Regions from separate parts of the Homo sapiens genome. Here region 2 is linked to region 1. The links come from fine-mapping of genetic effects on plasma protein levels. Region 1 holds a variant in brackets. A gene starts in the other region. All regions are shown on their reverse strands.

Evidence for each region. PIP is the posterior inclusion probability: the model's chance that the variant is causal. The UK Biobank Pharma Proteomics Project read protein levels with antibody pairs (Olink). The fine-mapping took linkage between variants from a reference panel, not from the people measured, so its PIPs are less certain.
Region 2: CCL14 starts here. The variant in region 1 is fine-mapped to the plasma level of the CCL14 protein (UK Biobank, PIP above 0.99).

What each region holds. Positions count from the first base shown.
Region 1 is chr1:159,205,502-159,210,501 of GRCh38, reverse strand. It overlaps ACKR1 (atypical chemokine receptor 1 (Duffy blood group)), which reads right to left. Exons shown (of 2, transcript NM_002036.4): 2 at 4,002-5,000. The coding sequence ends at 4,052. Among named protein-coding and RNA genes, the nearest start is that of ACKR1, 3.1 kb to the right of the region's middle. The variant G/A (reference allele first, on the strand shown) is at 4,798.
Region 2 is chr17:35,983,397-35,988,919 of GRCh38, reverse strand. CCL14 (C-C motif chemokine ligand 14) reads left to right here and starts at 2,191. Exons shown (of 3, transcript NM_032963.4): 1 at 2,191-2,349; 2 at 4,468-4,582; 3 at 5,032-5,523. The coding sequence starts at 2,271. The coding sequence ends at 5,119. CCL15-CCL14 (CCL15-CCL14 readthrough (NMD candidate)) reads left to right here. Exons shown (of 7, transcript NR_027922.3): 5 at 2,216-2,349; 6 at 4,468-4,582; 7 at 5,032-5,264.

The DNA.
Region 1 (5,000 bases):
CTGGATTTTCTAAGAGGCCTATAACCCTCCTCCTATCCCGTAAACATTAGCAATACCCTATTTAGAGGAAAAAGACTAGGTCCATGCTCTTAGAAAGACTAGAAAGATGAAAGGTACAGTTTGGAGCTACATACAATGTATTTTTGCATGATACGGAGAACTACCCAGGAAAAAAAAATACAGTTATCTTTGAAGAGGGCAAGGGTGAAACTTGACACGTTATCTGGGAAACCAAAGGCAGTAGGCAACTTTTTTTTTTTTTTTTTTTGAGATGGAGTCTCACTCTGTCGCTCAGGCTGGAGTGCAGTGGCGCGATCTCGGCTTACTGCAAGCTCCACCTCCCGGGTTCACAAGCAGTAGGCAACTTTAAATGACCACAGATGTGGTAGGAACATATAGAGAAAGCTGAGGACAAATGGCATTGATGGGGAAGTTGAGACTTTCATGCTAGAAACCAAGTTTGCAAACAATCAGGCAATGATTTTGAGATACTAGAGAGCTATAAGAACTTAATCTTCTCATTTATAAAAATGTATCCAAAAGATTTCCTAAATCTAAGTGCAACATAAAGATGTCTGATACATCCCCTTAAAATGATGTTCCCGCCGGGCGCGGTGGCTCACGCCTGTGATCCCAGCACTTTGGGAGGCTGAGGCAGGTGGATCACCTGAAGTCAGAGTTCGAGACCAGGCTGGCCAAACTGGTGAGACCCCCCCGTCTCTACTAAAAATACAAAAAATTAGCCTGGCGTGGTGGTGCACACCTGTAATCCCAGCTACTCAGGAGGCTGAGGCAGGAGAATCACTTGAACCTGGGAGGCGGAGGTTGCAGTGAGCCAAGATTGCACCACTACACTCCAGCCTGGGCAACAGAGTGAGACTCTGTCTCAAAAAAAAAAAAAAAAAAAGAAGATGTTCTCAAAATCCCCCAACCAATTTTCCAGAGCCAGTCTCTTAGAGAGTTTCTCTTCCCTTCACCAAATAGTTACAGGAAAGAAGAAAGCTAACGTGCATTTTTGCAGAAATGATGCTTAAACACTCCCCATCCCTCCCTGTGTTCCCCACACCCTTCCTGCCCAAATCACCTAGATGTCTAGAGATGATTTGGAAGGACTTGGACTTGTTAATTAACCTAAACAGTCGCATTCGTCAGCAAGGTGCATTATTGTTAATTAAAACTCCGATTCTCCTTGTGCCCAGACGGCGGGCTGCTGTTGTCAGAATAATTAGATAGCATACGATGGTTTTCATGCAAATCTCTGGCAATTAGAGTTGGCGATGAATTGGGTTTGAAATCCCAGTGAAGTTCTCAATCAGAATTCCTCTGAGGGAGGAAGGTGGTGATGGGGTTGGGGGATAGGGAAATAGGAATGGAAAAAGGGTGTGAGGACCAAGTATTTGTTTTCTAAATCCTAAGGGAGGGGCCTCAGCTTGGAATAAATGAACTATGAGCGTCAATGTGATGTTCAAACTTCCCTTGAATAATAGATCTCTCTCCTTTAGAAAGCAAAGCAAACTGACCTTCCTCAGGGTCCTGTGTTTTCCCAAGAGCTTGCTTCCCTGGCTCTCATCTTTCTGAGAGGATTTTTTTCTTTAGCTAGGATGCCCAATATCTCATACACAGCTAAAGTCCCTGCCAACCCTAAGATTAAATTCTTAAGGGCTTTAAGGAGACAGGATTTGTATTCCTGAAGGGTTGCAGAAAAGATGCCAGACTCAGACCAATTTTAGAGTGGTTGATGGCATGCAGTGGGTTAAATGCATGGGGTGGCAGGTCCCCAAGAAAGCTTTAAAGAAATGACTGAGGTCCGGGTTAGACTTAAGGAGGAGCTCTCCAAGTGCTGCCTAGGTAATGGCAGGGAAAGGGCAGCCCAAAAGGCCTGGAGCAATCCCGGTGGGGGTGGGGATGAGGAGGATGTAGCAGGGGGCGGGGGTAGGGCACTGTCTCCAGCCCACCCTAACCTCTTAGCAGCTTCGGGCTTCTGCAGCTGCCTTTCCCTTGTGAAAGCCATGAGAGCTGCCAAGCTATTACCCAGGAGTCTGGGGTTCTCTCTAACTGGACTGACTGACCAGGGATTTCTATCCAGAGGCACAGGGTTGGGGGCAGATAAGACAAGCCTACTGGTCTTAAATTAAGCCTCCCTTGCATCAGGTTGACACTGGAAGATTCAGGGAGTCAAAAACGCCCTCTCCTCCCCCTCAACTAGGTCAGCTTCCAAATCAGTACCTTGTAAGGGAGGACAGCAACATCTGGTAGAATTGCAAGAGTGGTCAAGGACGGGAGGGGGATATTGAGAGAAGCCTGGAAAAAAAAAAGCGGGGGAAAAAATACTAGAACACATTCATGAACTGTGGTTGGAAACCAGAGCATAATTTAGGTTTGTAAATTATTTCCTTTCTCTTCATTTTCTCTCCCTTCCTTTCTGTTTCAGAATGTCTCCCGCGTCTCAATCGGTCCCTAAATCCCGCCTTTCAATTGAGGACGAACCAATCAGGAGCTAACCTGGTGGTTGCTAAGAGACAGGAGGTGGGAGATTTAGAGGCCTTGTCGTGGCACCCACCCAGGAAAATTCCCTAAGCCTTTTGCACCCTCCTGCCTAAGCTATTCTAACTCATCTCTGCACCTCTCCCGCACTCGCCTACTATTCCCAAGCCCAGAGAGTCAAGCAGAAACATTTTAGTAAAGAAACCAGGTATAGCATATCTTTGGAAAATGGTAAGATGGTAATTGGGTTCAAACTGATAGAACGTATCTGCTCAAGTTTCCCCAGCCTTTAGTTGGGTTAGAGGTAGGAACTAACTGTTTTGTAGCCTCTTGGGTAGAGGGTGAATTTGCTCTTGGTGGTAAAAGCTGTGCCCCTGATGAGGAGGGGTTTCTGTCCTTCCAGCCATCTAAACTTGGGTAGGTAGAGACTGAGAAAAATCTCAAAGGTCATGATTAAGCAGCCAGAGAATCAGGGGTTGGGAAAAAGGTGCCCAGGGGATTGGGGTATTGTGTGGAAGGTGGAAGGAAAGATGTATGTGGGAAATAAAGGTTTATTTCAAAAGCTGAGATTCTGAAAGGGAAATTCGGGGAATTCCAAGCAGAAGATGAATCAAATCAGGGCCTCCCCCTTCAAGTTTCTCCACCCTTCACAACTTCTTGATCTTTTCTTCCCTCCACACATCCTACACAGAAAAGACTAGGCTTAAAAACCAGGGTAAAGAAAACTCATTTGGGTAAGGAGTGAGTCATAAATCCCGATTCTATATCCTGTGAACAGGGATGAGTGCAGAATTGAGTGGGGGTTTGGGTCCTGAGAAAAGTCAGTGCACACGCACAGGTGTGCGCAGTTCAGGTGCTGACAGAGATGCAAGCTCATGGGTGGACATATGTTTTTACATGCATACATCTAACATAAAGGTAGATTCTAACAGATCGAGAAACAGATGTGTACACACACACACACACACACACGCACGCACATTCAGGTCATGCTGAGGAACCTGGGAGAGATGACTCCCAGGAAGTGGCTTTTTAAATTACCTTGATATGTTCCCTGAACTGAGTAACATCCCCTGGGATGCTTCTTTCACCTTCCCCACCACTGTCCTAATCACTAAACAAAGCCAGAGAGGAGACAGAAGACAGAGGCTGGGCAGGTTGGACAGGGGGAGGTGGTATTGCTCTGGGCTTTGTCATCACTCTTCACTGTTTATCTCTCAGTTTGAGTTCCTATTCCATTTGCTTCCCAGAACAGCTTTTTTTCCAGCTAAGCCATCCCTTCTGTTTTTTTTGGTTTAATGACTCCCCTCATGCTCTGGTTCCTCTTCTCTTCTCCCTTGAGATGGCCGTGACCCCACACCTCAAGAGAACATCTGTGTACCCTGAGGGTATTTATTCATCATTCACCTTCTTCCCAAGCCAGCTATAGAAGCAGACACTGGCAAGAAAGTCTGACATAAAAATGTCTCTCTCTCCATTCTCCTTCTTCTCCCCAGACAAAATAAGAAACCACCCGCTTCACAAAGGCAGTGTAGACTTTAATTCAGGTTGACAGGTGGGAAGAGAACTAGGATTTGCTTCCAAGGGTGTCCAGATGAGAAGACCATCCTTCAGGGAGGGGCAGAGAGGGCAAGAGGGTGCGGGTGGCCTGGTGGCAGAATAGGGCGAGGAGCAGGGGCGTAGCCACACAGTGCAAAATTGCCAGGGCTTCTGCCAGGTTCAGCAGCAGGTCCAGAGCCTGCTGGGCCAGACATGTTGACAACAGCAACAGCTTGGACCTCACCAGGAAATCCAGTCCTAGAACCACCCCATGAGGCCACCAGAAAATAAACCAGGCCCACAGGATATTCATCCAGGGGCCTGGCCCCATACCCAATGCCTTCTTCAGCCCCTTGGCTCCAAACAAACCCAATGGCAACAAGACAAAGATGGCAAGACAGGCTACAGTGTGTGTGGCCTGCAAAGCCTTCAGCTCCGTGCTGTATATCAGGGTGCAGAGTCCACCAGAAGCACCACTGGCCAGGGTGACAGGCAGTGTCAGTAGGGCAGCCACTCCCCAAATTCCCACAGTGAGCCCCAGGGTGAGGCCTGGGACCTGGCCTGCACCCAGTCTGTGGCCCAGGGAGGCATGGCACCCTAGCAGCAAAGCCTGGGCAAAGGCTGAGCCATACCAGACACAGTAGCCCAGGCTACACAGGGCAGAGCTGCGAGTGCTACCTAGCCCTGGGGCCAAGACGGGCACCACAATGCTGAAGAGGGCACTGCCCACAGCCAGCTGTGCCAGGACAGGCCAGCCAGGGCAGAGCTGCCAGC[G/A]GAAGAGAGGTCTGAAAAGCATGAAGAGGACAGTGCTGCTAGCTAGGATACCCAGGACACTGGTGAGGATGAAGAAGGGCAGTGCAGAGTCATCCAGCAGGTTACAGGAGTGGCAGGGGGCAGCTGCTTCCAGGTTGGCACCATAGTCTCCATCTGGGAAGGAATCATTCACACCATAGGAAGAATTCCATACATCTTCGAAG
Region 2 (5,523 bases), not on the chromosome of region 1:
TTAGTCCCTCTTTGAGTTCTGAGACCTCTGGGATCAGGGTCATCTTCAATCCCTCCCTCCAAGCCTAGCCCAGGACTTGGCATATGATACTGTGTCAAAGAAGTGATGTGGTCACAAAACCTATTCCTTTTTCTTCCTAAGCATACAGATGATGTATATTTTCCATCCCTTTGTCATTATGTTGGAGCCAGGTTACTTGATGCTGGCCATGGAATGTGGGTGAAAGTAATTTGTACCATTTTCAGAACTGATCCACAAAAATCTCCCAATCCTCCTCTGCTTCTCCCTTTTTGTATCAAGCTTGGAGGCCTTGTGCTGAAAATGGTGGCATCCAAGGTAGAAAAAGGCCTGGTTCCTGAATGAGTACATGGAGGATCCCAACACACACACCATCATCCCACTACTGACCCACACTGGACTGTAACATGAGCAAGAAATAAACTTTTATTTAATTAGTCTGCTGGATTGTTTATGATAGCAGTTGGCACACACAGACTAATGTAGGTAGGAACTCAATACTTGCTGGAAAAGTACAGGAACTTCCTGTAAGTCTCCTAGAAACAACTTGGCAGGTTGGCTAGTTTCCACAAAAACAAGAAGTAAGCATTATTTCTTTCCAACTCACTTTTCCTATAAACAACTTGTTTCCTGAGATTGTTCCTGATAACAATTATTATCATTTAACTTGAAGGGTTTACATAATGTTGTTATTGATGATAAGAAATATAGAAAATTTTTAATTGATGACTGTCTCCACAACTAACCATGAGATTTCAGCCATTTCCTATAAGATACACATATGTAGACCTGGCTCAATTTGTTTATTCATCCTTCTTTTAAAATGTATATTCATAAAGCACCTGGTATACACTAGGTTCTGCGTGAATGGGCAAAGATAAATAATAGATGTTCTCCATCCTGATGATTCAGATGAGGAGAGGAGATTAAATAACCATCTAACCACATCAGCAAGCAGAATGGGGGATGTACCTCCAAGAACAGCATGGTGAGGGCACTAAGCTGAGAGCCTGCGGAGATGAGATCTGTCCTGCATCCAAATCACTGTGTGCACATGAGAAAGTCACTGGTCCTTTCTGATTCCCAGCTTCCATTCAGTAAATGGCCAGTTTAGACAAATCAAATGGCAGATACATAGCATGCAAGCTGCACTGCAACAGAAACTGCACGTTGGTCACAGCGTATCTTCCCAATGTGCCTGGATATGGCCTCAGAATCATTTCCAACACAGAGCTCCAGTCCACCACTAATCAATGAAACCTACTAGCTATCCCTGAATTAGACATTTTCTAGGGTTCCCACCAAGCTTCTTTGCAGCAAAAGTCAGAGAAACCAGGAGAAGGTCCCAAAGAGATCCACTATCTGATTTCAGAAAGGACTAAGACTAAAGGCTTTATAGAAAACCCATAAGCTTTTACAGAGCTCCGTTGGGAGTCCCATGTTTCTTTATGGCATAATGGGTGAGAACACAGACTTGGAAGCCAAACCACCTGAATTTGAACCCCAGTTCCATTTACCAACTGTCAAAAGCTTAGGCTTTGATTCTGAGCCTGTTTCCTCAACTGCTGTTCTAAAGATTAAATAGGCTAATATTCATAAGGCAACTGGGACAGTGGCTTGTGTGTATAGCAACCATTATATAAGTGAATTATCTACTGAGCACCACAGCACTTCTTCACTCCATGGTGTGGTGACCAGAATGGAGATGAGACAGAGAACTGCAGGTTCTGCTTCGAGTTTAAGTTAGGATTTCCCTTGACCAATGAGACCTGACTTGGAGGAGTCCTGGCCTCATTCCATTACCCCAAACACCCTCTAGTCTCTAGATGAACAGATCCTGAATGTCCAGGCCCCACGTGGCCTGTTCTAAGGCCTGAGATGGAATTGGATACAGGACACATCCAGCCTTGAGATCTTTTGCTAAGTGTGACACAGTGCCCCCAGCCCTGTGCTCATGTTCATGCCTAGGGAAAGGCTTCTATCAAAAGAGTTGAACTTCTTCCCACTGGGGATGGAAGACCATTTCCTCCCTTAAACCTTGGCTCTCCCTGCTTCCTTCAGGCCACCAACAACACATGTGCAGGATATGAAATTGCTGAGGCATCACTGCTTTCCTACTTCCCTTCCAAGTCTCAGCTCCCTTATTTTAAAAAATATTTGGCCTCAATGATCATTTCTCAACAATTCCTCACCGCAGGAGCCTCTGAAGCTCCCACCAGGCCAGCTCTCCTCCCACAACAGCTTCCCACAGCATGAAGATCTCCGTGGCTGCCATTCCCTTCTTCCTCCTCATCACCATCGCCCTAGGGACCAAGACTGAATCCTCCTCACGTGAGTGCAATGCCTTGTCTTCCTTCCAACCTAGAGCCTGCAGGGAAATAAGCAGGAGTGAGGTTGGGGCTCAGGGGAAGACCAGGAGCAGGGACTCAGAAAGGAGGGCTGGTATCTTCTTGAAATTGTGTGTATAGCAACATTATATAAATGAATTATCTACTGAGCACCACAGCACTTCACCCCATGGTGTGGTGAGCAGGATGGAGATGAGACTTAGGACTGTAGGTTCTGCTTAAGAGTTTAAGTTGGGATCTTCCAGCCTTGACCAATGAGACTTGACTTGGGAGACTCCAGGCTTCATTCCACTACCCCAAATGCCCTCTAGTCTCCAAATAAACAGATCCTGAATCTCCAGGCCTCACATGGCCTTGATCTCTTATCATTGCCCCCCAGGACCAGTCCCCCCTTGCCCTCAAGGACATGGAGTGAGACCAGCCTGCCTCTCTACTCCCTCAATTTCTCTCTCTTTGCCGCTAAGCAAAAGAGTGGCCCACCCCATTTGGGGTATATTTCCTCAGGGAGATTAGGAGCAGTGTCTTGAGCCCCTCAAGGGCATTTTTCTATTGGCCTCCTGAGGTTTGGGCCCAGCCTGCTTCCAGCGTCACCTGTGCCCAGTGAGTGCAGCATTGCTTGGGTATGGGCTGGGGGGAAACACGACAGTGTGGGGTCCATCCTAGGCCCCCTTTTCTCAGCTGATTTCTTAGAATAAGCTGCCTTTAGAGATAACCAAAACTATTTATCACTCTTCCATTTTACCTACTCTCCTTTTCAGAAACTGGGGGGAAACCGAAGGTTGTTAAAATACAGCTAAAGTTGGTGGGTATGTGCACAGTTTGACTTGCCCTCTCCGATGTCATTTGTCAGCTCAGAGGAACAAGGTGGGAGAGTATAGGAGCTCTGACTGGGTCTCAGGAAACAGGGGCCCCTTATGCCGTTCTTTGGATCGTGAGGATGCTGCCTGGAATGGAGCTGGAAAACAGGATGAGACCCTTCCACCCAGACATCTGGCCACCCTCAGTGACCTCTGAGGCCATTGTGATGCACATCCATGATTCTATGAAGCAGGGTCACATAACATGCACACACCTGATTTCTCCACTCCATAACCACAACATGTGCCTGTTTGTACAGGGCTCTTGGCCTACAATGTCCTTCCTGCTACCTCTATAATTCAAGCTTGGGGTGGCTGCTGTCACCTTGCTTCTCCTATAAAAGCCATGAAACTTCTCAATCAGAAAATAGATGAAAAAATCACCCAATCCAGTGATTTTTAAAACTTTTTAGACCACAAAACCTTTTCTTCAAGCAATATCTTCCACAGAGGCCCAATATGTAAAACAGAAAAAATGGGTTGAGTAGGGTACAAGACACCACTCTCAAATGCAGCAAGGCCTCCACAATAGTCCCTGAGGCCCCCAGAGCTCCAGGGAGCTCAGTGTAAAAACCACTGATGCAGTCCAAGGGCCTCATTTACAGAGGAGGGAACAGGGGGAAAGTAAAATGGCCACAGTACACAGGAAGCACAGGCAAGGTTAGGTTAGGATTTGGGTGCCCTGACTCTGTGGCCTTTGTCCTTGGGGCTTGCTGTGGGCATCCTGCTCTCTCTGCAGGTTGTCGGTTCAATGGGGACATGGGCAGGGTGGAGCACTAGGAGGGGCTGGGTTTGCATTCCCAAATGGCATGTCTCCAAATCCCTATTGGGATTTCTTCCAAATATTCCTCCTATTTGGAGCACCTTTCCCGAATAAGGCATGAAGGCTGCATGATATTGGCCAAGTCCCTAGCCTTCTCTGCCAGTCGGCCCCCAGAGATGGTGTAAGAAGATCTGAGTGTGCTGCTCTTCAATCCTGGAGTTGAAAGTCATCCACCAGTCTTTCCAAGAGGGGTTGAAGAAAAGGAGGAAGGGTGATTGATGATGAGGGAGGAGAAAAAGAAGAGCCCAGGAGTACCATGGAGAAGGAGAAGAGAAGATGAGGAAAGCCTACTCTCCCCTCCAAGTTCTGAGGGGCTGTCTCCTCCTTCCTTCCCTCCTCCATGCCCTCAGCTTGCAGGAGCAGCCAATGGTATGGCCTTTAACAAGGGGCCCCTCCTCAGCATCTGATGCTCTCTCCTCAGGGGGACCTTACCACCCCTCAGAGTGCTGCTTCACCTACACTACCTACAAGATCCCGCGTCAGCGGATTATGGATTACTATGAGACCAACAGCCAGTGCTCCAAGCCCGGAATTGTGTAGGTGGTACACACACATCACACTGGGGGGAGAGGGAGCCAGCAGGGCCTCCTGGAGGGAAGCAGGGAGTGGTGGTGGAATGGGGACCCCCAGCGTACCTCCCAGGTGTGACTACATGGGGAGAGGCAGCTGAGGGGCAATCTGAGCGCTTTCTGGCTGGAGCCTGCAGGAGCCATGGGGAAACTGACCCCATGGATGGGGAGATGACAGAGAAGGGAGAAGAAGGCAAGAGGGCACTTCCTCAGGGGGACACAGAGACTAGATGGGTCTAGGGGTCCTAGGAACCGAAGAGTATGTCTCAGAGAGGAGACTGGCTCTAAGCTGCCTCTGTGGAAGAAAGGAAAAGCAGTATAGGTCAGGTGGGGAATTTAGGAGGGAGGGAAGATGGGCTGTCTCTTCCGGCCACTGGGCCCCTCGGTTTGTGATCCTTCTCCCTCTTGCTCCACAGCTTCATCACCAAAAGGGGCCATTCCGTCTGTACCAACCCCAGTGACAAGTGGGTCCAGGACTATATCAAGGACATGAAGGAGAACTGAGTGACCCAGAAGGGGTGGCGAAGGCACAGCTCAGAGACATAAAGAGAAGATGCCAAGGCCCCCTCCTCCACCCACCGCTAACTCTCAGCCCCAGTCACCCTCTTGGAGCTTCCCTGCTTTGAATTAAAGACCACTCATGCTCTTCCCTGGCCTCATTCCTTTCTACGGGATTTACTCATTGGCCATGCACTGAGGACACCAGGGTGTGGCACCCTCGGCATCAAGCCTCGCTCTGCAGAAGTTTTGCTGGAGCCTGGTACAAAAAATAGGTCAGGCCTGCAATGCAGGTAGTGAGAAGCAGAAAGTGAGAAAGAAAAGCAGTGTAAAGACCGTCTCCTCCTCAGCAACAACAGTAGCAGACCCCGTTTTCTTAATGCTTTCTATACTCCAAGCACTCTGCTAGG